Regions from separate parts of the Homo sapiens genome. Here region 2 is linked to region 1. A link means that fine-mapping ties the variant in region 1 to the expression of a gene that starts in the linked region. Tissue or cell type: fibroblasts. Region 1 holds a variant in brackets; the other region holds the start of a gene. All regions are shown on one strand. Distances are from middle to middle.

Evidence for each region. PIP is the estimated chance that this variant, and not a neighbour inherited with it, causes the effect.
Region 2: it holds the start of SORBS2, and the variant in region 1 is fine-mapped to the expression of SORBS2 in fibroblasts (GTEx, PIP above 0.99).

What each region holds. Positions count from the first base shown.
Region 1 is chr4:185,767,514-185,783,311 of GRCh38, forward strand. It overlaps SORBS2 (sorbin and SH3 domain containing 2), which reads right to left. Exons shown (of 27, transcript NM_001395207.1): 2 at 7,714-7,853. Among named protein-coding and RNA genes, the nearest start is that of SORBS2, 37 kb to the right of the region's middle. RefSeq lists a silencer at 7,802-8,096. The variant A/C (reference allele first, on the strand shown) is at 7,505.
Region 2 is chr4:185,804,168-185,819,965 of GRCh38, forward strand. SORBS2 (sorbin and SH3 domain containing 2) reads right to left here and starts at 8,027. Exons shown (of 27, transcript NM_001395207.1): 1 at 7,497-8,027.

The DNA.
Region 1 (15,798 bases):
AAAAAAGAGAAAGAAAATGAAAGAGCTATGCATTTGGTGAAATAATAAAAACACAACCTTTCATCTCTGATAATACTGAGCATTAAATAAAATTATAGGTGCAATTATTTTACAGGTAAGTTTTACTTTCTAGGACAAAGTCTAGATACACAGGGCAGTACTGACTGCCCCGAGGCCTCGGTCTCTGCACCAATTGGTCTCATCTTATTTCAAGTGCTCTCGTCTTTGTCCTCCTCTTCTCAGTTACATCTGTGTAACAGGGTCTGTCCAGCGTTTCATTTCTCTAATCACCTTGAACATTGCTCAGCAGTATTACTAACACATGAGCCTGATGGTGAGACTTTTGTTCTCAATAAATAAACACAAACTCAATGCACCTTCCCAGGGGCTTTGCATGGGACCTAAATATTCTTTGAGTCCTGAGTTTTCTCTCCTCTGAATCTTTGCTGTCCATCACCTTCTGCCATTTGAATACCCTCTTATCCAAACCAAAATCCTAATTCCAGTACAGCTTTTCCTTTGTGATAATACCACTGATTTTCTAGTACAATATACGCCCAGCTCCCAATTCCAGCTCTGAGCTCCTAGAGTTCTGGGGGACTTCACATTGCCCATCTTCTTTTGCAGAGTGTTATATCCAGGTGTATGTGCCCAGCTCTCCTACCAGACTGTTCATCTGCCTGTGGCACGGCTCCTTGCACACAGTACGTACAAGGCTTGGTAACAGAATCCCATGTTCATTGAAGGGCCTAGACTGATCACATTTTAAATAATGCACAATGTTCTCACGTCTATTTAAGGAAGAAACAACTGATTTCTATCTTTTAAGATTGCATTTCAAGACCATATCAAAGGCTTTGAATCTCTCACCAAGACTAACAATGAAAAACAAATTTGGCCAAGTGCAGTGGCTCACACCTGTAATCCCAGCATCTTGGAAGGCCGAGGTGGGTGGATCACTTGAGGTCTGGACTATGAGACCAGCCTGGCAGCCTGGGCAACATGGCAAAACCCCATCTCTTCTAAAAGCACAAAAATTAGCTTGCGTGGTGACACGTGCCTGTAATCCCAGCTACTCAGGAGGGTGAGGCACGAGAATCACTTGAACCTGGGAGGCGGAGGTTGCAGTGAGCCAAGATTGCACCACAGCACTCCAGCTTGGGCAACAGAGTGAGACTCTGTCTCAAAAAAAAAAAAACAAAAAAACAAAAAAAAATGCAAATTTGATCATATTTAATTGAATTTGTTTCAAAGTAAGGGAAAGGGGAGTATGCAAGGGCGACATGTGGCCTGTTCTTCTGAAAAAGCAAGAAAGGTTATCTTTATACACCAGATCAAGGTATTGACAGCTACAGAGTGAAATTCCATACACAAAAAGAAAATTTTCTTCAAGTGAAAAAAGTAAGTGGCCAATAAGGTCACATTCAAAAATTAAAAATGGATGCCCTGGTCTTGATTACTGATACCATTTTTCAATAAAAGTAACCAGAGCTCCTTGAAGAAATAATTGATTTTAGGACTAGGACATGAAATGTACAAAATGATGCGGGAGCATCTTGTAGTACCAGGGAAAAAAAAAAGTCAACCCTTAGCATGAAGGTGTAAGTCAAAGGCACATGGGAGACTGGAGATGCATTTTGGATTTCAGATTTTTTCAGATTTTGGAATATTTGCATATCCATCCTGCGTCATCTTGGGGACAGGACCCAGATCCAAATGTGAAATTCGCTTATGTTATATGTAGTGTATCCAAATAGCCTGAAGGTAATTTTATACAGCGTTTTTAATAATTTTGTGCATAAAATGAAGTTTGTGTACACTGAACCGTCAGAAAGCAAAGGCATCAATATCTCAGCCACCCACATGGAAAATCTGGTGTTGTTTGGCATCACCATCATTCCTGACTGAATTTATTTGCTACCAATAAGCAATCATTTTCCTGCTCTTACTCAGACGTGAGTACTTAACAGTAGAAAATACTACTATTTTTGTTTTTGAAAGAGTCTTGCTCTTGTTGCCCAGGCTGGAGTGCAATGACACCATCTCGGCTCACGGCAACCTGTGCCTCCCGGGTTCAAGCAATTCTCCTGCCTCAGCCTCCTGAGTAGCTGGGATTACAGGCATGCACCACCATGCCCGGCTAATTTTGTATTTTTAATAGAGATGGGGTTTCTCCATGTTGGTCAGGCTAGTCTCGAACTCCCGACCTCAGGTGATCCACCCGCCTTGGCCTCCGAAAGTGCTGGGATTGTAGGCGTGAGCCACTGTGCCCAGCCTAATACTACTATTTTTTAAACAGTAAAGATACATCCTATTAATACAGTGAAAAATAATGTGTTTAGGTAACTGGGCAGCACAGGAAAAAGACCGTTTTCCTTTCTCAGCTGTTAGACAACAGCAGCAACAAACAATGCAGGCTTTCAGTTGCCACCTATGATGCTGTGTTTGGAGTAAAGGGCACTGTACACTGTATTTTTTTTCTTTTTTAGGTGATAAGAAACATCTGAAGCAGTTGACAGATCATGAAGCGGGTCCTCTGAGAAATGAGAGGCATTCTGCCGGATGGCATTTTTTTTTTTTTTTGAGACGAAGTCTCACCCTGTCACCCAGGCTAGAGTGCAGTGGCACGATCTCGGCTCACTGCAACCTCCGCCTCCCAGTTTCAAGTGATTCTCCTGCCTCAGCCTCCCGAGTAGGATGGCTTTTAAAATGTTTTCTCCAGCGTCATCTGCCTCATTAACAGCGATTTTTGTCTTAGAAGTCTCTCTTTGAGTTTCTAAATGGACATGACTGCTTATTCTGTTAGGAATGCACTCCACTCTAGTCCTTCAATTAGCCCATCACATTGTCACTGTGGCATCTGTATGCACATTTTCTGCCGTGTTAATGTCATCTTCATTGTCCAATTGTGGCATCATGTTGGTGCTCAAAACGTTGCAGATTTTGGAACATTTTGGATTTCGGACTTTTAGAGTAGAGATGCTCAGGCTCTACTACTTCTTATTTCAGAGAAAAACATAATATCCAAATAACTAATAAAAACTTGGTTGGAGAATGCAGACTTCTAGAAATGACTGTTTAATCTGCTTATGATAAATAATCCTCTTTGCTCTACTGCAAAGGGGAGACTACTGCTGTTACTGTTTTGTGTCATCATGTCCTGATCAGACAAACACTGATTTAAAAAAAAAATAAAACAAGTACATTGTATATGTAAATTTAGACTGTAATAATATATCCTTGAGAAATAAATATTATATGGACTCCATTTTTCTCTGACAGTCAATTAAGCACAAAAAGATTTTTAAAGCACTGATTTTTGCATTCTTAAATGACAAATGAAGTCTTCTTGAAATAAGATTTTTAATGATTTAGAGAAATATTTGCACATACACTAGCTTGGTGTTGATTCTCAATTTTTAATTTTTTTTTAATCCTTTCCCTGGCATTTTCATCGTTTCCTTTTTTTTTTTTTTTTTTTTTTGAGACAGAGTTTCACTCTTGTTGCCCAGGCTGGAGTGCAATGGTGGGATCTTGGCTCACTGCACCCTCCGCCTCCCAGGTTCAAGCTATTCTCCCACTTCAGCCTCCCAAGTAGCTGGGATTATAGGTGTGCACCACCATGCCTGGCTAATTTTGCATTTTTTTTTTTTTTTTAGTAGAGATGGGGTTTCACCATTTTGGTCAGGCTGGTCTTGAACTCCTGATCTCAAGTGATCCACCTGCCTCGGCCTCCCAACGTGCTGGGGTTATAGGCGTGAGCCACCACGCCAAGCCTATCCTTCCCCTTTTTCTGTTTTGTTATGGATGATGAATGTCTTAAAACTACTGAACTCCTTATACCTTGATATGGTTAGTGAGAGCTTCCTTGTGGGATGGTTCTGAATGATTTTCTCTAGAACCTCCATTTGAACATCTTCCTTTCCTCTGCTCACTGTACCAGTCTGGGGCTATCAAATCACATATGCTGATAAATGCTACACTATGACTGGTGAAGCCAGTGCTAAAAAGCAGCTTCTACATATGGCACTTCCAAATTGTGTTATTGCTAGCTTTTCCAGTGCTTTCTCTACTAGGGCATCCACTGCATGTCACCTGCTAAAATGCAAACCACATCTTTAATGAAAGTCTGTTTTATTGAATATATAAGTGACTATGAAATTTCAAAATGAAATTTGATGGCAATTTAATTTTATAATAAATCTATATCTATGTATCTCACCAAAGATAGCCTAAATCTTTAGTGAGGCCACACATTCATTTTTATGAAAATTCTTCACATGAGTTTAGAAATCTCCCAACTAAGAAAAGGACAAGTCAGATCTTAGTGTCCTGGGTGGCTTAGCATTTCATAACTGCCAGAGAACCATGAGGACCTTCCTGGGACTGACTCATGGGAGTTATCTGCAATGATTTTATGTTTCCCAATGGGTCATATTTTCATTGGAGATTATTTACTATGCCTGGAATCCTAATGCTTGGTGTCTCTAATGAGAAAAATAATACAAAAAAATTCAATATTCAGCCAACACAAATTTATATGATCTACAAAAGAAAGGAATGTTTTCAGATCCTGGGCTTGATTATTTTTGTTTTCGATGTGACAGATTTGCTGAACAAAGCTTACAAATCTCCCTTTTCCTCTCTGCTCGCTACTACCCCGACCCAGAAAACACACACACACCCCTTCCCAACCGGGGACCATCTGACCGTTCACACCCACATCAACTCTGGGTCGCCATGCTTTTCTGAGGGACATTGCCTTCACTGAGAGCTCCTTTATTCTCAGTATACCTTACATTCCCAGCCACAGTACTGAACTTCTCAATGCTTGCAATGTTCCCTTGGAGTATATCAGTTGAGCAGGCGGAAAAAAAATATCTGGAAGTTTATTATTTTTCCACCAATATATTTGACACCACCTTTGGAGAGGGAACAAAAGGCATACTGTCAAGCGGATAGACCTGGACAAAATGTTACTGTTTGTTCCTCACGAGCACAGAGGTATATTTAAGCAAAGAAAGGCATTCCACGGCTCTCCCGGGACTTCCTTCCTTCAGCTGAATTATACCAACATGTTCACACCACTGAGGGCCAGGCTGCTGGAATTTAAAACGCAGACCTCTATCTGCCAGTGCTTCGATCCCACGGCTACAAACATTCACATTAGGATTGAACCTGGCTTTCAAACATCATGAGATAAATGGGAGTTTACTGGGGGAAAACGTGTGCCCTCATGAAACTATAGTAGAAGATGCGGAAATAGGACTGTCCCTGTTCAGCAGATTCTATACTAATACAATAAAGCCTCAAAGTCACCAGAAGTCACCTGGCCTTGGGTTATGTTTCAAATCCAGGCTCACTGACATTCATGAAACCTTTGGCAACACAGGCCAAGTTTCGTGCAAGGCTGGGTAGAATACTTCTTTCATGTGGAAGCTGGGTGAAACTCGGTGGCTTTGGCTAGCTTTCACCTGAAGTTTCACATTCAAACAATCCAAAGTTTCAACGTAAAATTCAGGGGTGAAGAGAAACAGAAAGAAAAAAAAAACAAAACAAAACAGGGGGAAAATGGCTTGCCTGGGAATGGAATGATCACCTACCATTCTCCAAAAAGATTTCATCCTGGTGCCATTTAATTTTGCCGCTGGACTATCACCTCTAGCAATATATTTGCACTCAGCCCTGCAGACCAAGGCTTCCCAGTACTAAGGGAGAGTGAGTATTCTAGCTAGACGCACCCCATCCCCCCAACAAAGCCCAGGCTCAAAATAACGGGAGGATTTAAAATGGTAACCATACACATAAATGCGATGATTGACATGCTTCTTATAATGTAGATTTGAAGGGGAAAAGTGGCAATGAAATGCCCAGGTTTGGGAAACTTAAAGATTAGACTGAACATCTCTAGGTTTTTCTACTATAAATCCAAGTTCTGGAGATTCGATTGCATCTGCTCCTAATCCAGGGAGATCTCTGCCGTAGCTTTCTCCACAGCTCCGCCCCTTTGGAGATTTGTCCTGTGGCCACTTGCGTTTGTCCTTCTTAGCAAGGTGCAGAGGACGGGGCAGACTGCGTCAGCGCTGAGGAGCTAGCGTCCTTGACTGGGACTTAAACAGTCTCCTGACAGGATTAGGCTCATTCTACTCCTAACCTTCAACAGAACACGCAGGGACCGTTTGCCAGGGAACGTCAAACTCTGTATTTGGCTGAGGACTGTGAAAATACCTTGTGCTTGGGGTGGGAAAGAAGAAGGGAACAAATGTCACACACACCTGTGCTTTCTTCACAATGAAGAGAATATTCCAAAGCTGATTGAATGGCTAGTAAGTGCTACATTTTGCCCATTTTAGGAAATACATTTTTAAGAAATCCCTTATCCCTTACACAGCAGAAGTTTCACTCGTAAAACAGACTTCTGGCTACTAAGGTTTTTTTTTTTTTTCCAGTTTTCTTTTGATTCTAATTTTCTTTTTCTTTGTTATTTCTTCCCGTTTTTGTTACTCAGACGATCCTTATGTGGTTAAAATGCATGCTTTCCTTTGATATGTGCTCTGTGATACCAATAAACTTTTCTGAAAAAAAAGTATTTCTGAACTCCAAAGATTTCAGCATCCATGTTTTTAAAAAGCACCAGTTGGGCCCCAAGGCACACGGAGATTCTGAGGCAGCAGGGCAGCCAGCGCGGGGCTCTGTGCACTCTCATTTGCTGCTTGCTCTTACACATCTGCCAGACAGGGGCCATGAACTGTCCTGAAGTCTGTGTTGGGGAGAACTTTACCAGAGAACACTTTTCTTACAATTGGGGGTCCCTCTAGAAGTGAAATCTAAGACAGATCAGTGAGGAAAACTAAAGCTCCAATAAATTGTTTAAAGGAAATGCTATGAAAGCATTAAACCAAAAGGAAAAAAAAGGAGACTTTTTACTGAGCATAGTAAATAGCCACAATCAAAGTAAATGCTGTGTTTGAAGTTAAAGTCCACAGATCAAAGTACTTCGCAAAATGTCAAGTGCAAGCGTAACGAGGGGGAGAGGGGAGCCACAGAAACTGACCCGAAGTATCACATTGTCACGTTAGAGAAACCTGCCAGCAGATGTACCCAGCAAAAGACAGTCAGCTTAGTAAGGAATCCTCAACACTGTCCCCTAAAATGTGCTAGGAACATACAAAACAACAATAACAAAAACAAAACCCCCAGATTCCCCCAAATCAACCACTCTAATTCCACACGAGCAATGAACGAAACAGTGATGAAAGGAGAACATTATACAATACGGCTCGCTCATTGCCCTTAAAGAACAATTACTTATATATATTATCTTTACTCAGGTGGATGGTTGCATCTTTTTCCTCTTTTTTTTTTTTTAATGCCCCTGGAAAGTTAAAAATAAAGCAGTCTAAACAACAAAAATATGATGTCTGAAACATCCTCTCATTGCTCTGGCAATCAGGCTTAATTAGACCTCTGATCCATGGCTTAGTCATAGTCAAGCGTGTACTGC[A/C]GGTCACTATTATGAGAGCTTTAAGCAAAGTTTAAAACTTACAGCCACAAAAATGCCCAGATGCTCCTGCTGTATTCTGGAACACCGTGTTTACCTGAAAATTGTTCACAACTCCCCTTATTATTTTCACTATAAGTAAGTTATTTTAAAGACATTAGTTATGAACATACCAGAAAACAATTAAATAATTCCAGAATAAAAAATCTTACCTACAGGCAGCTGAGTTCAACAGTTGCTCTATACAGAGGAAGTAGGAGTCAGTGGCCTTTTACATGTAGAGATTGTTTATTTAGCCCTTTTTAAAAGGTCTTGAACTCCAGAGGTTTAAGATTAAGTCCAATCCAAGTGTCTGAAGGAAAAAAAGCAAGAGAGAGGCAAATGAGAGAGGGAAAGAATCCCAGCTGCTGGGTGGTGCTACTGTTCTGAGAGCATTTGAGCTATTTTCAGCATTAACAGCAGCCGGGGTTGTCTGCAAAGGGATGAAAATGCCTTGCCCAGATCGCCACCCCCCACTCCAGGGGGGAGAAAACACCAACCAGGAAACCCACAACGACTTGGTTCATTGTGCAAATATTCATTTAAATTTTGAGGAAAACTGCCAGCACCATTGAAAACAAAACAAACCCAAAGTTGACTGGAATCTTAAAGAAACACAGTGCTCCTCAAGTTTTCAAAATGAATTACCTGATTCACTGAAAACGAGATGTCCTACTTATGCTTTATTGAGAAGGAGGCTTTTCTTCTGATATTTCCTAGGGGGTCTTAAGAAATAGTTGAGAGCCCTCTGGTAGCAGTATCTGTTGTCAGTCTATTCTTAAGACTGAAGACAAATGATTTCTTAAAAGAGCCCGCACCTAAATTTCCAGTTTCATCAACTATGCTATTTTTGAAAGCTACTGGGTTAAGCGTTGACATCTCTTATCTATTGGCAGAGACTGGGGACCATTCAGTGACATGAGGCAGACAAACAGTGACCCCTGCTTCTGCCTCCACAGGCCAATGAAGAAATCATTCTGGTTGGGTCACTGGCAATGACTGACAAACTTTGAGCCTTCATTTTGTTTCTAGAAATAAAAATTAAGAAGTCGTATTCATTCATTCATTCAGCAAATATTTATTTGGTGAGCACTTCAGAGCTTACTATAAGCCAAGCACTCTGGGAATACAGTGGTGGGCAGAATGAAGTGTCCTTGCCTTCAGGGGTTTAGAGCACACAGATGCAGTGAGAATAAATAAAAACAGAATTTTTAAATATTTTCCAGACTTTTTCACATGATGAGACTATTCACATCATGGCAGCTGAAGACTGAGATCTCTTTCTATTGTGGATGAAGGAAGATACTGTGTGTCATCAGACCAACTTCAGGCTTCCATTGAGTCATTGTGCCTTTACACCACCACCAGGGAGGAAAATTACTTACTTTCTACCAAGGAAGCAGTTAAGTATGTTTATGAACGCTTTCATTCCAATAGATGAAATCCCTGGTTTTTTTCAACCCCCTACTCCCCATTACAAAAAGAATGCTTAAGTAGTCAGAAAGTACTGCTGAGAGGCTTTCCATCGGGAGATGAAAAGAGAGTCTTCAACCTGAATTCAGTATAAAAAACTGCCGGTGGCTCAGGCCCGTAATCCAGCACTTTGGGAGGCTGAGGCAGGTGGATCATGAGGTCAGGAGATCTAGACCATCCTGGCTAACATGGTGAAACCCCATCTCTAAAAAAAATGCAAAAAATTAGCAGGATGTCGTGGCACGCGCCTGTAGTCCCAGCTACTTGGGAGGCTGAGGCAGGAGAATCGCTTGAAGCCGGGAGGTGGAGGTTGCGGTGAGCTGAGATCGCACCAGTGCACTCCAGCCTGGGCAACAGAGTGAGACTCCATCTCAAAAAAAAAAAAAAAAAATGCCCTGATATATTTTATAATTAATGTGAGGGTTGGTTGCTAGATGCTTATATCAAATTCAAATTCAATTCTTTCTTTGCCATTAAAGAAAGACACTGAAATAGATTATGGAAAATACTGAGGATTATGCCATGTGAAAAAAAAGGGTTACATGACTACTACTTCAAGTACTATTTAAAAACAGTGAAATCCTTTGGCTCAATAGACCTTATATTAAAACTGTATTTCAAATTAAAAAATTATAAATTAACTTTGAAATCTCTAATCTGAATTTTATAAATAAGATCAACTTTGTTTTAAAAATGTATACCAGGCTTTAAAAAATGACTCTAGAATAAAGCATTTTTCTTTTCACTTATTTTAAATGGTTACATTTTACTATGTCTTAAATACCTGCCAATCTAACATGGGATATTTGTTTCTCTTGGCCTCAATGTGGAATGGTAATTCTACTGGTAATAATTGGAAGCCTAGCTGCAGACAGACACATTTTTTAATTGTTTTTTTCTTTTTCCTCCTTATAATAGTTTATACCAAAAAAGGGTATAATGCATTTAAATATTGGCTTTCCTTGAGAAGCTATGGCATTAAGGAAACAAAGATCAACATAACCCACTCTCGTATAAAACAGGGATAATAATGAGTTGTCATAGGGCTCATAGGAATAATGCACAGAAAATGCTTACCTGGGTAATGTCTGACACACAGCAAGCATTTGGTGAAAGTCAGTACCATCATCTCTGCTGTAAGTGTAAAGCTTTGCTCTCCAAATATGGTGGCTACATGTGGCTACTGAGCTCAATGCGGCTAGTCAGAACTGAGATGTCATATAAGTGTAAAATGCATGCTAGATTTTGAGGTCTTTATACAAAAAAAAAAGGTGAATGATGAGAAATTACTCAGTGGGTACGATGTTCATTATTCAGGTGATGGACACATTCATTAAATCCGTGACTTTACCACTATGCAGTCCATCCATGTAACAAAATTCTCCTTGTACCCCACAAATTTGTACAAATAAAAATAGATTAATGTTGTCTCTTCCTAAAACATGTAAACTATCATATCATTTTTATATTGACCACACGTTGAAAAAAGAATGTAAATTATGACATTAATTTTTATATTATGTGTTGAAATGACAGTATTTTGGACATAGTATGTTAAATAGGATATTTTGCTAAAATTAATTTCACTTGTTTCTTTTTTACTTTTTCAAATCTGACTGCTAGCTAATTTAAAATTACCTATGTGACTTGCATTCTATTTCTACTGGGCAGTGCCATGCAGGCCAACGGTTCTCAAAAGGTAGTGAGCATCAATGACCCAGAAGCTTCGTAAAAACAGATTGCTGGGTCCACCCCAGAGCGTCTGATTCAGTAGGTCTGGCGGGGCCTGAAATTCTGCATCCCTAACAAATTCCCGGGTGATTCTTGACCTCACTTTGAAAACCGCTGGTCTTGGGCCTTGCTTCTTAAAAAAGTAGTCCACGGACCAACATTAACGTCATCACTTAGGATCTTGTTAGAAACGCAAAACCTCAGGCCCCACCCAGACCTACTGAGCCAGCATGTGCATTTTCACAACATCCCCAGGCTGCGTGTAAACATGTTGAAACTTGAGAGAAATGATATGAAGTAGTGTCTGTCATCCCTGGGTGAATATAAGGTAAACTTTTACAAACACCAGTACCCCGGCCCCGCCCCTAGAGAGTCAGATTTAATGACTCTGGATGTGACTCGAGCATCTGCATACGTGAACAGCTGATTCCAGATTAAAGCAAGCACTGAGTCCCATCAGACTGGATGTGGAAAGGCCAGGATCTAGATCATTTGTACATCATTAAGGCATAGTTGACACAGATCAAACCATATTAGAGGGTATTTACATCCCAAAAGAGGATCTTGTTAACCCCAATAACTCTACAATTGTTAGAACTGGTGAGAAAGACCCATATTTTGGAGTAGAGAGGCCTTCTGTTATTCGCTCCACCTCTGTTCCGGCCTTAAATAAACGAGCACGCCAACTTTAAGAGTGTGTCTGAATAACCTCATTAGTTTGCCGAATGACTTCTCACATTTTCAGGCGGCACCTGAGCGTTGTGTGTTTCACAGAGCTTGGTAAAAATAAAATCCTCACTGTAAGAGAGAATCTGGGCTCACGCTGGTAACATTTAAAACTTCCAATTCTATATGCAAAGACCATCTGCAGCTTTGCTTCTCACTTTCTTGGTTGAACCTTTCAGAAAACTTTTAAAAGTGCATAATACTTAAGAGTAGAGTCTGGAGTCAGGGTGCCTGGGTTCGAATCCTCATCCTGCCACTTACGCGTGGCTGTGGCTGTAGGTCACTTACTTAGCCTCCCCATACCTCGGTTTCCTCCTCTGTAATGAGACCTTTTTTTATTGGGTTGTTGTGAGGGTGAAAATTGTTATTTGAAACAGCCATGGAAAAATCTGCTGCTTTGTAAATTTTATATGAATGTTGGTTAAATAATCAAAATATATTTGAAAAACTGTGCAGATTTCCATATGTGGCTAAATTTAGTAATTTTTAAAAGATACTGTGGTGATTTCCAAGGACTTTCATGGGCGTGAGTTTTTGAACACATATATTTAGAGGGTTTCTCTGAGTGTTGTTTTACATTTTTTTCCCAAGACAGCACAGAATTCTCAATTGATTCCTCATCGCTTCCTATTATTTGAGAGGATCCCAGTAGGAAGGAAGTAAATGTAGTTTTCCCATGAGTATTGTTTTCTAGAGAACATTCTTTACCCCTGCAGTCCTTTGAAGAGTGAGTTGTGCTATAGATGTTTAGAGACCTCCCTGGTCCCTGTCATTCTAGTGGCATTGTCTAGTATCCCAGGAGAACAATGTGTCATTCTCTTAGTCAAATATTTTAGTGCTTAGGGCGAGGCAGCAAGACCATCTGAAACACTGGCGTGAGTTTCAAAGACATATTGAAACAGCAGTCAGATTCTCCTATAGAAATCAGCTAATGCTGACTAAAAGAAGGGATGGGGATGAACAGGGAAGTGCTGAAGTCACGCACATTGTAAGCAAAATGAAGGCTAGACTAAGTAGAGTAACATTTTTTTTTTTTTTTTTTTTTTTTTGAGACGGAGTTTTGCTCTTGTTGCCCAGGCTGGAGTGCAATAGCACAATCTCGGCTCACCGCAACCTCTACCTCCCAGGTTCAAGTAATTCTCCTGCCTCAGCCTCCCGAATAGCTGGGATTACAGGCATGCATCACCACACCCGGTTAATTTTGTGTTTTTAGTAGAGATGGGGTTTTTCCATGTTGGTCAGGCTGGTCTCAAGCTCCTGACCTCAGGTGATCCACGCACCTCAGCCTCCCAAAGTGCTGGGATTACAGGCGTGAGCCACTGCACCTGGCCTGGAGTAACACCTTTTATGCTTGTCTGCTTCAACCACACTCAATGAAGTGAAGCATATGCAAGAAAAATAAGGATACCTGGTAGCTCTGGGCACGTAGCAAGCATCCGTCGGGTCATCTACAGGAACCTCACCCATGGTATGCCACCTGCTGAACAATGTAATGCATGCATCGGGCTGGAAACTAAAGCCCATACATTGAGTGACTTTAGACCAGTCATGCAAGCTCCCTACACTTGTGTCCTGAAAGGCAGATAGAGGCATGGGACTGCAACTGCCTTACTGACTCTTAAACCTATGCTTTCTCTTGGGCTTATCTGGATTACATTCGGCAGTCTGCCATGATTTACGCCTTTTTGCAGCACTGTTTGAAAGGAGTCAAATCATACGTCCAATGACTTCTACTGCCTGGTTATTGATGTTAAGTAAATACTTTTTAGTAGGCGATTTGTCATCACATGTGTCATTTTGCCATCTGGGTTGAGGTTTATCAAGTGAGGTGAAAATCTTAACAAAAGGTTAAAGGACCAGTATCATTGAAAGAGATTATATAGAAATAACTTCTTAAAACCTCTGTTAGAAGCTCAATTTTCTAGTTGAAACTTTGTTTCATTTATTTATTTTTATTTATTCATTTATTTTTGAGATGGAGTTTCACTCTGTCACCCAGGCTGGAGTGCAATGGGGTGATCTCGGCTCACTGCAACCTCCACCTCCTGGGTTCAAGCGATTCTCCTGCCTCAGCCTCCCAAGTAACTGGGATTACAGACATGCGCCACCACACCTGGCTAATTTTTGTATTTTTAGTAGAGACGGGTTTCACCATGTTGGTCAGGTTGGTCTCGAACTCCTAACCTCAGGTGATCCTCCTGCCTCAGCCTCCCAAAGTGCTGAAATTACAGGCATGAGCCACGGCGCCCAGCCTGAAACTTTGTTTTAAACTGGCTGCCTGAATTCTTTGTGTATTTAAAGAGCACCTCTGCTGTTTATGTAACCATGACTTAGCTTTTCTTGTTATTTCTATTCCATTTGAAATTGAGCATATGCAACAGTCGCTAAATCTGCTATGAAAATTGTGAAGCCTTCTCCATGTGGCCCACTGAAGGCCCTGCACGATCTGGTGTTCTGCAGCATTTCTGCCCAGATCTCCACCACCTTCCTCCCAGTGCCATTGCCTCCAGCCTCTCTAGCCTCCCTTCCATTGCCTCCCGCCTCTCCAGCCTCCCTTCCATTGCCTCCAGCCTCTCCAGCCTCCCTTCCATTGCCTCTGGCCCCTCCAGCCTCCCTTCCCTTGCCTCCGGCCCCTCCAGCCTCCCTTCCATTGCCTCCGGCCTCTCCAGCGTCCCTTCCATTGCCTCCGGCCTCTCCAGCCTCCCTTCCATTGCCTCCGGCCTCTCCAGCCTCCCTTCCATTCCTGGACTGTGCCTCATCCAGGGCCCTGGCTTGCCTGGCTCAATGTGATGGGAATGCCTTCCCTGCCCAGTGGCGAATGCCATGCAGCCTCCAGCTTTCACGTGTCTCTTCCTCAGGAAGGACTTCCCTGCTCCACCAGCGTAGCCCCGCCACCCCCTTTTTTTAACTCGTAAAGAATCACCTTCCTCATTCCTTCTAAATTCAGGTTCAGTTGCTTGAATTTGTTGGAGTAATTGATCGGAGCCCCTCTCCTCCACTAGCCTATCAGCTCCCGCTTGCCCCTCACATGACTTACATTCCTCCCGCAGGTACTGCATTCTGCCTGGCCCTAAGTAGGGGCCAATACGTAGTTGCTGAATAAGTAAATGATTAAATAAGTTCTGCCGAAGGCATTAAGCAACACAAGAGTACATTTTTTGGTTCTATATTTATCAGAACTTGTGAAATAAAAAGTATCTGATCATGTAAAAAGCAAAACATTATGTATTCTAATTAAGCAGCTGTTTCCAACCAAGACGATTCTCTGAAACATTGCTTTGTAGCTACATATTTGGTTTAGAAGCTGTCTTAAGAGGCAGGTGCCACTTGCTTTTCCCTTCAGGATATAATATGTTCTGTTATCTTAATTTGCATTTATTCTAAAATAGATTTCAATAAAACAAGTTACTTGCATTCATATATCATATTCCTAGACCTTTTTCACAACCATGTGATACTCTACTAGGGTAGAGTGAGGTCCCTGATAAACATTTCTTCTGATTAGGGTTATTGAGAGAATTATGTATTTGTCTATATATTGCCTGGCAGTTATACCACCTGAAACCATATGTGATTATTTATAATGTAGTTTTATGAGCAGACAGGCAGATATAAAGTAACACATCAACCATGCCACCTGGTCAGGCCATAGTCATTCCAATGGTATGAAACTCTTTCTTGTGGCCATATTATGCATAAGTTATAAACAGACAATGAATGGTCACTGACTGAGAAGACTGGAGATTTGCAATCTTATTTTCTGGCAAATAGCCAAGTCATGTCAACAGGAGAGATAAGGAGAGTTTTGTGTGTCATACACTGTAGAGCAGGGGTCAAAGCCTGGGATAGGAGAGGGCTTGGTCTTCACTGCATTTATTTGAAAGGAGCTATGGAAACTTTTCTTCTACCACTTGGGCACAGGAAGGCTTGCTATGGCCCAACAATGTTTTAAAATGTATTCTTTACACATGTGTAAAACACTCTGAAATCATCAAGATACAGCATGAAACGTATCTTTTCTGAGACATTAAAAAACTGAATAAATTAATCCAACAAGCCATGGCACAATTCCATAATTACTATGACCACAGAAGTTAATTTAGCAGGGATAGTACATAATACACACCGTGCTAGGAAAGTGTCCTTGAAACTCATGACGGTGAAGGACGAATTAAGCCCAATGAAGGACAGTTGACCAGCATTCAAGAGGTAGAAGGAACTATAGATTCCTTATATCAAGTACATGAGAAAAACTTCCTAAATGAATGAGGCTGGAAACACAAACCCTCAGAGACTGGACATAGGAATATTTTCTGCGTTGTCTGTCT
Region 2 (15,798 bases), 37 kb after region 1:
AAACATTTAAAGATATGTAGACCAGATCAGTTTTCTCCTGATGAAAGTCACATGGAACCACACGCAGGTTACCTTGCTTTCAGCAGGTCCCTTTCCTTGGGTGTGAATTTTATTTGTTACAATAACCGACTTGGCCTAGTTACTCAGCCATCCTTCGTTCACTCTTGGTAGTGGACATGGCAAGATGGTGGGTAAAAACACGTAAACAAGACTGCTCTCTCGTGGAGGTCACTTTCACATGGAAAGACTGGACACGTCAAAACACTTCATTAACATGATATAAAAATAATACAACATGTAAAGTGGTATCGGCGCATCTAAGACAAAGCGATTCAATGTTAAATCCCTCTTTGGGAAATAATTTAAGATTGCAGAAAATGTTTCTGAGAAATTCCAATGTAAACGTCCTTAAAAGTCCCTACTTTTTAGTATTTGGTATTATACTTATAGATTTTGTGATTTTCCAGATTTTTCATTAAAAGTTAATATGCATAAAACTCTTGGGATGGTAGCAAGTACAGAGTGAAATCTATATAAATTATTATTATTATCAATATCTTTTGGAGTGAACAAATTGAACATTTTTTGAATAATCTTTTGCGTAGTTGACTGAATACTAGTTAATAGGTTTCTATTGTTTTCTTGAGTTAAATCAGAAGCAGATATTTTGATTGACTGTGTAAGGTCTTGCAGCTTCTATGGTTTTTTTTAACTTGAAAAGGTCTTCCCAGACTGATACCTCTTTCTGTCTTGAACTCTCTGTTCAACTATATTCTAAAGCCTTAAAATGAAGATCTTCAATTTTATAACTCTGGATTTAAACTTTTCTTTCTTATTCTTTTTTATTTTACAAAAGAAAATTTTAACTCTTTAGGTTGATTATATTTCTTGATGAATGTGACTGTACCAAGAGGCTTTAAAAAAATTGAGATTAGAAATCAGTTTTTCTTATCTTCTGAATTATTCACCATATGATGTGTTGCATTTGAGCTTTATCTATGCTTCTGGTAATATTTCTGTCTTATATAATTGTTAAAGTATAATGCTTCTCACCAGGAAGACTATATATATATATATGTTTAATAATAGCCTTTTTAAATTTTCATGTGTTTTTTCTTCTCCTTTGTTTTCTGATTTTTAAAAAATCAGAAAAATGTCTGAATTGTCACTTTATCTGTAGATTCAAAGAGCACTTTCTAATCATGTGTTGGCATTAGCACAACACCGGGGAAGATCTGATTGCTGTAAGCCGTTCATTCATTCAGCAAATACTGACTGAATATGCAGTATGTTGACCTGTTTGCTGAGGGCCTCTCTGTTCCGGCTGCCATTCTAAAGCGAGTCAAGTTTTCCCTGTAACTTTTATTCTGCAGAAGTAACCTGTACCTTTTTCCATTCTCTTGCCATTCACCACTCTCCTGACCTCCCTTTGCGTAAACTGGTTTAAGCCTGGCGCTCTAGGTCCATCCAACAACACCGGTCTATTCACACTGTAGCAGAGCAACCAAGCAGTTATACAATTTTCATCTTAACTACTAGTAATACTATGCTATAAAAATTTTGAAACCTAGATTTTGAGATATTGAGCAAACTAAAATATGTAGTATTTACTATAGTGCAAGAATACGTCTGACGGGTTAAATGCACGCGTTTTGGAAAGTGCTCAAACCCTTCACCAGATGACACAGTTATAGCACAACAACAGCTGAGGTTATTGTTATCTAATCTCCTTTCCCTCGTTAACTTTAGCACAGAGAACTGAAATAATTGGGTGTGAAGGCATCTTGATAATCTACCAAAAAGGCTCATTTTTAAGCAGCCAAGCGTTGCTCTCTTAAACTTTTGTTGTTTAGTAGCATAAAGTGTAGGCAACCTGTATGAAGTATAAATATCTGGTATTAAAAAGACCCAGTGAGGCAGAAGTCGCTGACTCCTCTCAATAGGTGGAAGAGGATTCTCCATGCAGCCGAAGGCTTAATGAAGCACATTTCCACCAGCCAGGCTGCTGCCTCTGTGGTGTTACCTCTTCAGAGGACTCAGTGCCTCTGAGAAGCTGGCTGTCCTCAGCGAGAAGTAAGTACAGGGACTTCTGTTTAGAGGAGACTAGAATGAATATTTATACTAATAAATTTTCTCCAACATAGCCAAAATCTCATTTGAATATGTTTTTCTTTCTGTGCATTTAAAACACTTGCCATTCTTCATGGCATCCCATGCTTGTACTCTTAGAGGATCTTCACGAGTGGCACAGCTCTTGGCTAGAATCCTATTTTTTTTTTTTTTTTTTTTTTTTTTTTTTTTTTTTTTTGAGACGGAGTCTCGCTCTGTCGCCCAGGCTGGAGTGCAGTGGCGGGATCTCGGCTCACTGCAAGCTCCTCCTCCCGGGTTCACGCCATTCTCCTGCCTCAGCCTCCCGAGTAGCTGGGACTACAGGCGCCCGCCACTACGCCCGGCTAATTTTTTGTATTTTTTAGTAGAGACGGGGTTTCACCGTTTTAGCCGGGATGGTCTCGATCTCCTGACCTCGTGATCCGCCCGCCTCGGCCTCCCAAAGTGCTGGGATTACAGGCGTGAGCCACCGCGCCCGGCCTAGAATCCTGTTTTTGCTATAGTTTGTTGGACTCCTTGCGGCTAATCCTTGCAGCTATATTAGTCTCTGAGGGATGCTGAATTGAATAGAACATCAGAAGATTTGGAGCCTGACGGGTTTATGTTGCCCCTGTCCTCAAATTCAACTATTCCAGAAAAAATGTACTAGGACAAGGAACCTGAAAAGAAGAACTATTTCTAACAATGGATTGGATGAACTCTCCCATTCAAAGCAGAGGATATAATTCATTATAAGACTTGTAATTTACTTTAACCACTGGGAAAACATCTCAGAGGGAAGAGAGAAAAACTGAATTTCTGATTAAATTTAAAAAATCAAAAATTTAATAAGTAGGCAACCGTATAAATGAACAGAAAAAAACAAAATATCACCGAAACTTTCAGATAATGTTCTTTGTTAAAAATAAGTTTCCCTAAATTATAATATGAATATATAAAGAGAAATTAGAAAATATAATGAGAACATTACCAGGCCTTTTTGTTTTCTTTCTTTTTTATTGTGTTTTTGTTTTTTTGAGGTGGGAAAATCTTTGAAAGTAAGACCCTTGATTGGATTCAGGAAAGTGAAAGCTTTCTGAATTTTTGCTCAAATAATGCTTCTCTAAGGTACAGAATTTAATGCTGAATTTATGTCTACCTCACCTGTATAGGGAAGAGGAAACCACTGCTTTTTTGGCCAAAATTCCTACTTGGTAAACTAGTATATTTCCGTTTTGAAGACCAAGGTGCAGTGAAGTGTGGTGGAGTTCCATATGGATCTGTTATGCTGCAAACACCAAAGTAAAAACCCGTCTTTGCTGGTTCCCCGTCATTTATTCAGCAAATATCATCTTAATTGAACTTAAGCTGAAACGTGAGTTCTTATTTGCCAATACTCAGAACTCAACAGTTGCAGAAGTGTTTCCTTTTAACTGCATGTCCATGTCTTGAGTTTTTCAGAAATAATACAGAAAAACATATTTTGAAAACATATTTATCTGTATTTTTCCACGTGACAGTGGCAGTTTAGGATTTAACAGGCATATCCATAATTAAATTGTTAGTTTGAGGAACTTCCAGAAAATTATCTAATGCAATCATATATCACAAGTCTTCTTTATAAAATACAAGTGCAACTCATTTCATTATGCTATCCATGTAGTTAGACATAACTGAGACCTTTAAAAATATTATAAATGACTTAAAATAGAAAATGTTAGAAACAGTACAGGCATATTACAAAATCATGGTTTCTGAAATCTAATTACTATATGCAATTTAAAATAATTAAACATGATTAGTCTTTAAGATGAATAGAACCAATTCCAACTTTAGCTATTATTTAATTATAGCATGCTGTACATTAAAATCAGCTGGAAGATAGCCAAAATAAGCTTTAAAGGACAGCATGATAATTAAGAATTGCTATTTATCTTACTTTTATTAGAAAACTCAATGCTGGAATGAATGCAATAATGTCAAGAAATATGAATTTAAATAATTTCCTAAATATTTTACTTTCTAATCCCAAATATCAGGATATTTTAAACTTCCTCATCAATTCTACTTTATATACAAAAATTCATACAGTATTAATTAGAACTTTTGCTTTCAACACAGATATCTTAAAGACAAGGAATTATGTATTTATAACTTCTTAATAAAACTATGGGTACATTCTTATTTTTGATTGTGGCAGTTTTTTCATAAAAAGGCTACTGAAATCAGGCTTATTTAAAAAATACTAATAATGTTATCTAATATAGAACAGAGGGTAGGAAGTCTCTGTAAACAAACCTATATCTATATCAAGAGTGATTCTAAGAGAATATTCTCTCCCTTACCCAGGTACTCAAGTTGTAGGGTAACATAACTAGTGTAACGTAACTAGTGATTTCCAGTCACCTTTTAGGTTTACTTAGGAACATTAAAAGAAATGCTGCCATTGTAGACTTCATTTCAATTATTTAATCTCTTTCCAGTTCACGACCTTTACTTTCTTCTGGTTTCAGCAAGAAAAACAACTTCATAAGTGTCTTACATTATAATCGGCTACTAATCATCATCAACTCAACATTAGTTTTAAACAGTCTGATTCCATAACAAATTTGTAATAGGGATATTTTCTATACATTTTATAATAGCCATGGATAGAAAAATAGTATTATTTATATACTAAAACATTCAAGTTGTTTTGTTTAAAACATACATTGTAAAATTTTCCCTCGGGAAATTTGGATTTATTATAGGACAGTTGTAGCTTTTATGAAATTGGGATCCTGAAGCCATATTTTCAAATCAGAAAAATGAAAGCCTCATTGTTGTTTTTCAAATGTTTTAAGTTTCCTTGATAAAAGGCAGTATTAGGACTTCTATTTCTAGGTCAAGTCTATATTTACAGTAACTAATAGGAAAATATTGAAGTCTGAGGTTACCAGTACAATGTCTGAATGCAAAATTCTGGACACTGGACAAAGTACTTTAGAATCAGAGGCCAGCAAAGCTCTGGAAGGCTGTGAACAGGGACAAATGCAATATGGTTCAGCAGACAGAAAGTCAGAAGTAAGATTCAGATGTAGCCAAGCAGGGTGGGGGACAGTGAGGGGGGATGTCTAGCTGGACTTGAAGGGCGTATGAAAGCAGCTGTCCTTGCAGGGGAGATTTAAAGGAAATGACTCTTCAGGGGGCACTGCATTTGCAAAAAAAAAAAAAAAAAAAAAAAAAAATCTGATATAGTATGTTTTGGAAATTCCAAAATATTTGATATTGCCAGCAGAAGAGTTGGAAAGTGGCAGAAAATAAGGGTCTAAAAATAGCCATAAGCGAAAGTGCAAAGTCTTGAAGGATAGAGATTATGTCTCTGAACCTGGTTCTCAAAATTGTTGAATTATTAACTATGGAGATGCGCTGTACAGAATTGAACTTAAAATGGTCATCTGTGTATAGCATGTCATCTTAAAAGGTTACTAAAATAGGAAAGAACTTGCACAGGTATAAAGTGTGTGCCATTCCTCCCGTGGGCTAAGGGTCTTGTCTCACTTGGTGCCACTATCAATGCAACAGGCACAGCAGTCGGGTGTGCCCTGGATATTTCTACACCTCATTCTTCTAAAAGCTCCCCCAAGAAAAATTAATAGGAAATCAGGTGCTTGCTGCAGGTCTTTGCACTGTGTCAATTCTAAGAAATCCTTTGGCAGTGTAAAGCTTTGAAGGAAATTAAATTGGAGAGAGATTTTCTCTACCTTTCATTCAGCTCATATAGAATCCCTTACTTAGCTGATATTTTTGCTCATAGAATTGGACTCAGAACTAAGTCTGTTCATTTAGCTTTCCTTTGAATGTTAAACATAATGAAGTACAAGGCCGTCACCTCACCATTTTATCCCCTACAACCCGCATAGGCGTACACTTATCACCAAACGTTTGCACATGTTTGGCTCCACTGAGATTCTTAGTCTCTATCTTTATATTTTGACTATTTTGACATTTAGAACAAAAGTTTGGAAAACTATTCTCCTACTGCTTTAGCATTCTCTTATCTTAGGGCTTATGAACATTGCTACATCTCTGAAACAGGCGGTTCCTGCCCATATCTATCAGTGAAAATTATACTTAAAATTCTGAAGAGACTCATGTCATCCAGATTTTGGAGGAAAAAGGTAGCAAATAAAAATATACTTCTTAGAAGTAGATCTCAGTTACTACTTATTTTAAATTTCACAGTAGATTCCATCTTTTGTAGATAGGGGTTTTGTTCAAAGTTTTTGACCAAACATTTTTATTAAATATTTTCAATAGTATTATAAGTGATCTGACATTTTTGGTAACAAAACAACCAAAGAACTGACTTGAGTAAAGCTGAAATGTTGCTGAACCAGAATCTAATCCTTACTCCGTCATTTTCTTACCAGGGATTTTGATTTGACTGACCAGTTTCAATCCACAGTAACAGCTTTGTTCCTAAGAGACTATAAATCAAGGAAATACTCACTACCAGGCAATTCCTCCTGCAATTCGGGGTCTGTGCTGTTATTATGAAGCAACTGACAGCAAACATTTGCTGCAAGTATGAGCGCAGATTTGGATGAGGTGTGCGGTGTTTTTGGTTTCACTCTTTATCTCTGAAACCTATCTGCTTGTGAGAAAAATTGTGCAAGAAAAGAAGTTTTACTGCCACATACCTCAGCTGTCCTAGAACTCAATGCAGAGGCTTCGCTTCCTTTCTTTCCTTGGATTCTGAGCCGGGGGAGCACAATGGGGGTCTTGTGCTCTGGGCCAGCAAGGCATGCAGATACTCGGAAAGGAGGTGTGAACGGCTTCCAATACCTACACTGTTTGCTTTACAACTACCCCAACTAAATCAAACAGGACACCAAGACACTCAGTCCAGGGTAAGCAAGTACAAAATCCACTGGCTATTATGACCCACATAGAGAACAGAATTCTTCAATTTAAGTGTGTACATAGCTGTGTTAAGAGTTAAATAAATCATTTACGAGGCTTAAAAAGAAATGCTTCTCATGTAGTTCTTTTTCATGTAGTTCTCTGAATACAAGTCAAAGTGCAGGTCACGAAAGAATCCATTGTTCACAAGCGAGAAATGTTGTTGGCTGTGAGGACGGTTCAGAACAAGCCATCGTAGTCTGCTCAAACAGTAAATATTGGTTTTAAAACCCCAAAGCATATCGGTCATGTTTTTTATCTTCCAATTGCTAGAACCAAAATTCACTGAAACAACTCTATGTCTCTGATACTATTTTCTAGAAATGTGTGTGTATGCGTGTGTGTATGTGTCTGTGTATGTTTGTTTGGTAAATCCAAATCACACAATCAACGTAAATCTTTCAGGCTAAGTTTTGCCCCAGTTATTTTTATGCTGTGCTTTCAAAAAGGTCAAAAAAGCTTACCTCTGTCAGTGTACTGGGACGCTCAGGAAGCCCCTTCTCCGCCTCGGCCTCAGCGTGCAGACATATGCCCTGGGAGCCCACAATCTGTTAACAGGAAGCAGGTAAACCCGAGAGCGTCCGCCTGCGTTCCAGTCCAGTGCCCGTCCCAGCACACACCTGCTTTTTCAGACCTGCCGCTCATATGCCACAGCCACGCACAGGACCAGCGTTAGCAGAGTGCAACACCCTCCGTTTGGATCCCTCGTTTTCAGGGTAAGCAGCTAGGGAGCTGCTGAGATAATATTGCAGGGAAAGCTTGCCTTCCCAAGACAAAAACCTTTGCTGCTGCCTGATAGCAGATATGCAGCATTATCACTCTGCATTCCACATTCTCCAATCAGCTAATTGGAACGGCAGTCAACAGCCTGTCCAAAAGGCAGCTTGCAGGCCTGCGTGGCTGTGATCATTGTATACTAACATGCCCATTGCTTCTCTCTTCCCTGAAGAGATGTATAAAAGAGGCTTCTTCCAGGGCGAAGCTCAGCAGAATATGCCACACTGTTTTCCATAAGTAAAATGGCTGGTCCTCTCAGCTCTGCTGCAGACAGCTCATTGGGTTCCACTGGCTTTTCGTAGCCATAGCAACAACCAACAGACAGACTTAGCAAGCATGGCTGATCATGTGCAGCACACTCACACAGCTTGTTAATTTCTTTTCATCAAACTCATCATTTTTTTGAGGAGGGTAGCTTCTGTTATCTTTCTACACATTTCACCGATAGTGCAAGTGCTCCGATTTTTCTGCTCTCCTGAAGAACTCTTTTTTATATGAGCCGGGGCTATGTATGAAATCGAGGAAGTGAAGCCCTATTAGTGGCTATCCAGGTTAATAACATGCAAATCACTTAAGAGACCCTAACTGGAAGCATTGTCAAAACAAGCCCCACCTTCCAGTCATAGAATGAGTGCAGAGAGCTGCAAACGGGAGAGTTACACTTTTTGTTTTTAAATGATAATCTTAGAGCCACTTAATTGAAACAAAACCCTGTGAATTGCTATATAGGGTCAGAATAATAACTAAATCAGGTAGACTATTTTAATAAGATCTTTAAATATCCATTTACTTATGGCTCAACTTATCTGATTACTTTAAGATGCTTTTTATGCAATTTAAAATAGAATTTTTAAAAAATCCTATTGCTTCTACGGCAGAAAATGATTCTTTAACTCAATCTTATTTGTAAATTAAAAATTCTTTTTAAAAAATCCGCACCTAATTAAAAATTCTTTGACTTTAAACATTACCTTCAAGGCAAGAATAGTTTTACTTCCTCAGTAAAATGGATCACATTCCACCCGTCCATAACATTTCACCTCCTCTGGGAATCTACCATGATTAATGCCATGAACAACGTAAATCTTCTGCAGAACCCCCAGGCTTTTCTTCTTTTTCAGGACTCTATCACCAGTCATATTCTATCTGATATATTTCCAAGGCACTGTCCCATTTATTTTTGTTTCTAGCAATCTGTTTCAAATAGTTATGTTAACACTTTGGACTTGTAAATATAGATGTTCTATTTGCTAAGTAGTCATTGATTTAGGATTCCGTCAGTATTGCGTTTCCCTACCCATGTTAACACTCCTGCCTTCAGTATTAATTCCCAAATTTTGACTGCATAGGAATCCTGTGGATGTAGATTTGGGGATGCCCGCTCCCCTTCCTCCCCAACCGGATTCACATTAGGTAGGTCTGAGCCACCCAGGGTCAGCGTATCCATGGAGGACAAGTGGGTGGCGCTTTCCTGCTTGGGAGAGTCCTCACCGCTTCAGATCGCCTCCAGCCAGCCTACCTTTTCTCACTGAAGTTCCCTTCCCTGAAGTTATTTTGCATTTGCTGTTGCTGAGCGTGCCCCTGCCTTCGCCCTCAGCCTCCCATTCTACTATTCACTGCCCACGTTTCAGAATCCTGCATTACACACCATTTCCTTGCCCTGCAGATGCTGCTACTATTAAAAACCTTCTCAATCTGACTGCTCCTCGCCCCAGCACCTTTAACCTCCATCCCAATCTGCCTCCTCTTTTATCTTCCAACACCTGGCCCAAATGGACCACCTCACTCATGACTCTCCCAGGTGGGGTCTGAGCGACCTCTTCTGCGACTCCCCTGTACCGGGGTCCACCTCTGCTATTACAGGCCTTGTCACGCCCTGGGACTTCTTAGCAGTTCTCCTTTTATGTCTGACTCCCAGACTGTTCTATCAACTCTCTGGAAGCCAATCTGGTCCATGTCTTCTTTGCCCTCCATGCTTGGAATATTCTAATTTCTCAATGCCTCTAAATGAGGACCTACGACACTGTATGAATAGGGACTGATGACTGGCTGGTGTGAAATCTGTGTTTTAATTTACTTTTCAACATCACACATTTGTTGACTCATCACTTCAGAAGAACTTCAGTGATTTTGACAAAATGCTGGCATGTTACAAAAGGATATCAAGAAAACTCTAGGTGCACTTGATGTTTTAGGGTGGCTTTTCTTTTCATTGTATCTCTGAAAATGTCTTTATACCCTCACACTTGATTGATTGGTTGGCAAGGCATAAGAATCTCTGGCCGTGGCTCACACCTTTATTCCCAGCACTTTGGGAGGCTGAGGCAGGTGGATCACTTGAGCCCAGGATTTGAGACCAGTCTAGGCAACAGACTGCATCTCTACAAAAAAAAAAAAAATCAAACAAACAAACAATTAGCCAGGCATGGTGGTGCACGCCTGTGGTCCCAGCTACTCGGGAGGCTGAGGAAGGAGGAATGTTTGAGCCTGGGAGGTCGAGGCTGCAGTGAGCTGTGATCACATGACTGCATTCCAGCTTGGCAACAGAGGGAGACTCTGTCTCTGTTTTTAGTAGCAAAACAAACAAACAAACAAACAAACAAATATCTGAAGTCATTTTCCTTTGGAATTTCAAAGGCCTTCATCCTTCTTCTTGTATCTCCTCCTCCCCTATACCTCCAATTCCTGCTCCTCCAAAGAGAACTGGAAGTCCCCCAGTTTGCACTGAACCGGAACTGGGAAGCTGGCAGGAACTGAGATGAATCCCTTTCCCCTCTTTGCCCCGTGGCACGTCTCCCGGCATCTCTACTGGCCTTCACACATCACTCTGCTGCCAGTCTGTTCTTCCAAGGCTCTTGGCTCCTTCGCCTGCTCGAAGCCCCTCCCTTGTAACTTGGTGCACTGAGGCCCATTGGCATTGCTCTGACCTCAGGCCCTGCCCTAGCCCAGGTCCCTGACGTTTATTCTCCTTCCAAACGTGTTTGTTTTAAAATGTGCTAGATACAGATTTCCAAGAGACAAATCTGATTTTTCCAGCCCATCTTTCTGAGTCAAGTGAGATACCACCTATGTGGCCAGCAGCTTTATACATGGGCTGCCCTGTGCCTTGGTCCAATCAGCTATGACAAGGACACTTGGCATTATCTAGTTTTAAAATTTTGCTAATATAATAGGTGCAGAGTAATGGCCCATTATTGTTTGAATGTGTGTTTCTCTAATTACTGACAAATTGAACATCTTTTCATTGTTGATGGTTTTCAGGGTTCCCTCTTCTGTAAATTTTCTGTTCATAGCTTTTGCCTGTTTTCTCTATTGAGATTGTTGTCTTAGTGTGGAATTTTAAACAACGTGGTCATAAAGGTATTTTTTATATATATTTAAACATTATAATTAAATTTGTTATATTATTAAAGGTTATTAAGATATCCACTAACATATAAAGGGAACCCTATAATTCACACTGCTAGTTGTTTTGGTTTTTATTATGAAATGAAAATACAGAATGTGTGTGAAAATCTCCATTCAGAAATTATGTTCAGTATGAAAGCGTAGAATACCACACCATAATATGATTTTCTAAGACAAATATTTGTTTAGAAGGATTTTCAAACAAATATATTATCATCAAAGAATACATATACACACACATATATATGCTCTAATAGTATACGCACACACATATATATGGAGAGAGAGAGAGAGCTATCTATCTATCTAGCTTCTATTTTAAGTTATACCGTATGCACACCTACACATCAATCAATCTACCTATCTATCATCTGTGTATCATCTATGGAAGGCAAACACAAATGTGCAAAATGCTAACACCTGATGAATCTTAAATGAGAATATTTTCAGTTTATTTTACTATTCTTTGCACTTTTCTATAAGTTTGATTTGTTTTCAAGATACAAAGTTTTAAAAAATGAAATAAAATGAGAATAAAAATAGTGTTTAGAATAGACACAGAGTTAAGGTTAAGATTAGTTGATGAAGACATAACTATTTATCAGAGTTGAAACTAAAGAAGTTAATAAGTTATGGAGTAACTAAAGTGATTACTACCATTACTGTTACTCTGAGGAGGCTACTCTGGTAGAGAGTATTGGAAACATTTTGCACTTTCTTGAAACAAGTTTGCTATTTCCCTACATTTACTGCTTCCCTGTATTCTGATCTTAAACCATTTATCCTCTGGTTCGTATTTTGAAATCCTTATTAGTCTGTTTCCTTAATTCAACAAAATCATCACTGCTTGAAGCAATAGGTTCTTCTCTAGTCACATCTTCTGCTGCAGACTCCACAGCTGGGACCCACCAAAGGATCTGGTCCCTGGCACAACAAAGAAACACGTCATATGACTTAACTTAGAGACTGGAATTGAAGCATGGTTTATGAGGTAGCAAAGACTTTTGTAAAGCTTAGATTGAATTTTCTAATTCCTAAAACAAATAAAATAGAATATCCCAAAGGTTATTCCAAAACCTTGCATATTTAGTTACTCTCACAATGACGTGAACAATGTCAAAATAGGACATTGATGGGAAATGTGACAACTGACTTAGGAGGAGGATTGAAGTATCTCAGTCAAACAAATTGGATTTATTTCTATGATTCCAACCCCAAGAAATATATGCTGGAAAGCAGACTGACCCACAGGCTACTAATCAAATGCGTTCATATCCCCTGAAGAAGTATGACCCTGATCAGTATCCAGAATGACTTTTATAAATCAGAGGTGCCCAAAACCAAAACAAACCCAGCAGAGTTGAGGGTTTTTGGAAATTCACTTATCAAATGAATTTAAAATGAGAAAATGATTATAGAAGAACAAAACCTTGCCAGAGAGCAAATGATAAGAACGTAAACATCAGCAATAAAAAACCGTTCAACAAACTGGAGAGAAAGCCAAACCTATTAACACAAAAACACTGTGTGTAGCCCATTAGTTGTTCCTAGAACCCCCTAGAAATTCTGTATACTCTCTAGGTTAAGAGGAATAAGGAAAATGTGGCAAGAGGTACAGGAAGAAGTTTCAGCTAGTCCTAAGTCTGGAGAGCCCGGTCTTTACTGGCTAATAATAACAACATTGTTTTAAATATTTCAGGTTTATCAAGCTTTGGGTTTGCAAATGACTATGATTGCAGCAGCTTACAGGAACTACTTTATCGTAAAATGTGTGTTAATATGTGTCAGTACCAGGTGGGGAAAAAATAATGGTGTTATCCAATAATAACAAAAGAAAAAAAAAACCACCCACAATTAACCCCCTCCCACAGCCCTGTTAACCAGTCCCAAACATATAAATACATCTTGCTGTAGCTAGAGAAAAGTACTCCTGGCTTTTATTAAACCTGCAGTGGGGAGAGATTCTGCAAGCAATACAGAAAAGGCTGCACTTGCTCCCAAGGAATTTGACTGTTTATACTTCATAATGATAAGCTTAAAAAGCGACCTGGAAAGAGAGGGCTGGCTGCTTTCATGCTCCTGTGAGGGGCCACACTTTGTTCTTGGAGAGGCACTCTGACCACATTAATAGAGTGTAGCTCCCATGACCTTTCCCACTTAGCATTGTGTCCTGTGGCAGCAGTGGCCCCCAGGTACTTCCGGGCAACGTGCCACCCTACCCAGTGCAGAAAAAGCACTGGGCTCTGCCGTCACGGCATTGTTGAATTAGTAACGAAACGCACCAGGCTCAGCAAACAAAACCTGGCAAGAAGGATTTTAAAACAAATGCTTCTGGTTTCACCTGAGCCACTGAAACAAATTAGAAGGTGCTGGGTGAAACTGGGCAGCTTCCGTAAACTCTGAAGAAGATCATGCTAAAGCCCTCAGCTGCCAAATGTGCAAATCTCAAAAGAAGTGAAAATTAGAGGGTCACCTTGTGTCTTCTAGAAGTGCTTCTGAAATACATGTTCAGTAAGATTCATTGGTCAAGATAATAAGATGGGCCCAAGTGATGTATTAATACAATCAGGTACACGTTTTAGGATCCAACGGTCCAACAACAAGTGGAAAATACTGTTGAAAAATAAAAATCCCCAATCCGCACTGGAAATAGTAGATGTTCAGTTAAAGGCCTGACAGTGACAGCACGTGCAGGTAGGAAAAATAAACTATGCGTGCTTGCAGAATATTGGATGGGAGCTATAACCCAGAATGGTAATTATTTTACTAAGCCTACCCAGGTCAGAATTCAGTGCCTATGTGTTTGTTTGTTTGTTTGTTTTTGAGATGGAGTCTCGCTCTGTCGTCCAGGCTGGAGTGCAATGGCACAATCTTGGCTCACTGCAATCTCCGCCTCCTGGGTTCAAGCGATTCTCCTGCCTCAGCCTCCCGAGTAGCTGGGATTACAGGTGTCCGCCACCACACCAGGCTAATTTTTTGTATTTTTAGTAGAAACGGAGTTTCACCATGTTAGCCAGGATGGTCTCCATCTCCTGACCTTGTGATCCACCTGCCTTGCCCTCCCAAAGTGCTGGGATTACAGGCATGAGCCACCGTGCCCAGCAGCCTATATTTTTAAAAGTCAGACTCTGGCATCCTAATTGCCAGATCATTGCCTTGAACTGAGAACATTCTTCTGGACATTTCCTGCATCAAAGGAAGACTATTTGAAACATTCCTTGTGAGAGGTCAGGAGATCGAGACCATCCTGGCTAACACGGTGAAACCCTATCTCTACTAAAAATACAAAAAATTAGCTGGGCCTGGTGGTGGGCGCCTGTAGTCCCAGCTACTTGGGAGGCTGAGGCAGGAGAATGGCATGAACCCAGGAGGCGGAGGTTGCAGTGAGCCGAGATCGTGCCACTGCACTCCAGCCTGGGTGACAGAGCGAGACTCTGTCTCAAAAAAAAAAAAGAAAAGAAACATTCCTTGTGAGGTTTAAAGTAGCATGACAAATCATTCCACAACCAACTTTCCTATAGGCATAAAGGTAGATTTTAAAAAATTTATCTGAGAGCTGATACCTGACCTGCATCTTGAAGGACCCATTATTCTCTTGGCATGTGGACTCTTTCCTATATCTTTCCTTCATTAAAGACATGGTTTGCTTCCAACAATTGGAAGCAAACTCAAGTTGTGTTTCAATTTTTGGTAACACATGAGAAAGTCTTATCACAGGATCAGGATTGGCTGCATAGGAGAGAAAGCTCAAATAACAGGGCTTACAAGAGACAGAGCTATATTTTTCTCTCACTTGAAGGATTGAGAAATAAGGAGTTCTAGGCTAGTAGAAAATTGGCCTCATGATTATTAGGACTCTAGCTCCTACCCTCTGTTCTGTCATCTTTTGAAACTGGTTTCTATCCTCAAGAATCCTCGTGGTCCAGAATGGCTACTTGTGCTCCAGCCATCAGGTCCATGTTCCAGGCAAGAAGAGGAGAGGGAGAGCCAAGGGGCACATTTTCCGCTTGAGTTGGCCTCTTTGAAGGAGCTTTTCCCCACCTCCCACCCAGCACTTCTGCTGATATCTCATTGCATCCTGAGTGATAAGTAAGTCTCAAAAACGTGGTCTTTTCAGCCGGACGCCTTTTGGTCCCAGGTAAACCAGTGTTCTACTACTGAGAAACAAATTGATAATAGGGAGTGGATAGACAACAAGCTGCCTCTGCCAGCTCATGTCAGCCTGGGTACAAAGAAAGTACTATCTCATTTCTGGACATTGTCAGTGAGCCTTTATTCCTGGCTGGTCACCTGTCAGTGCAGGGATCACCCAGGCTGACTCGGTGGGTTGCGGAAGCACCCTTCCTTCATTCCTGCCTGGGGGTGTCCTTGCCTATCCAGCCACTGTGCTTAACTCCTCAGCACAGACTCAAAGCATTGCCATCTCTCCTTATACTGGTTTCATATCAATATCTCAAAGTATACTTGTTCATTCACTGTGGAACAAATAAATAAATGGTGTGGATTCAAATATTCTGCAATTTGTTAGCTGTGTGATATGCAAATTGCCTAACCTCTTTGTGCTTCTGTTTCCTCATAAGA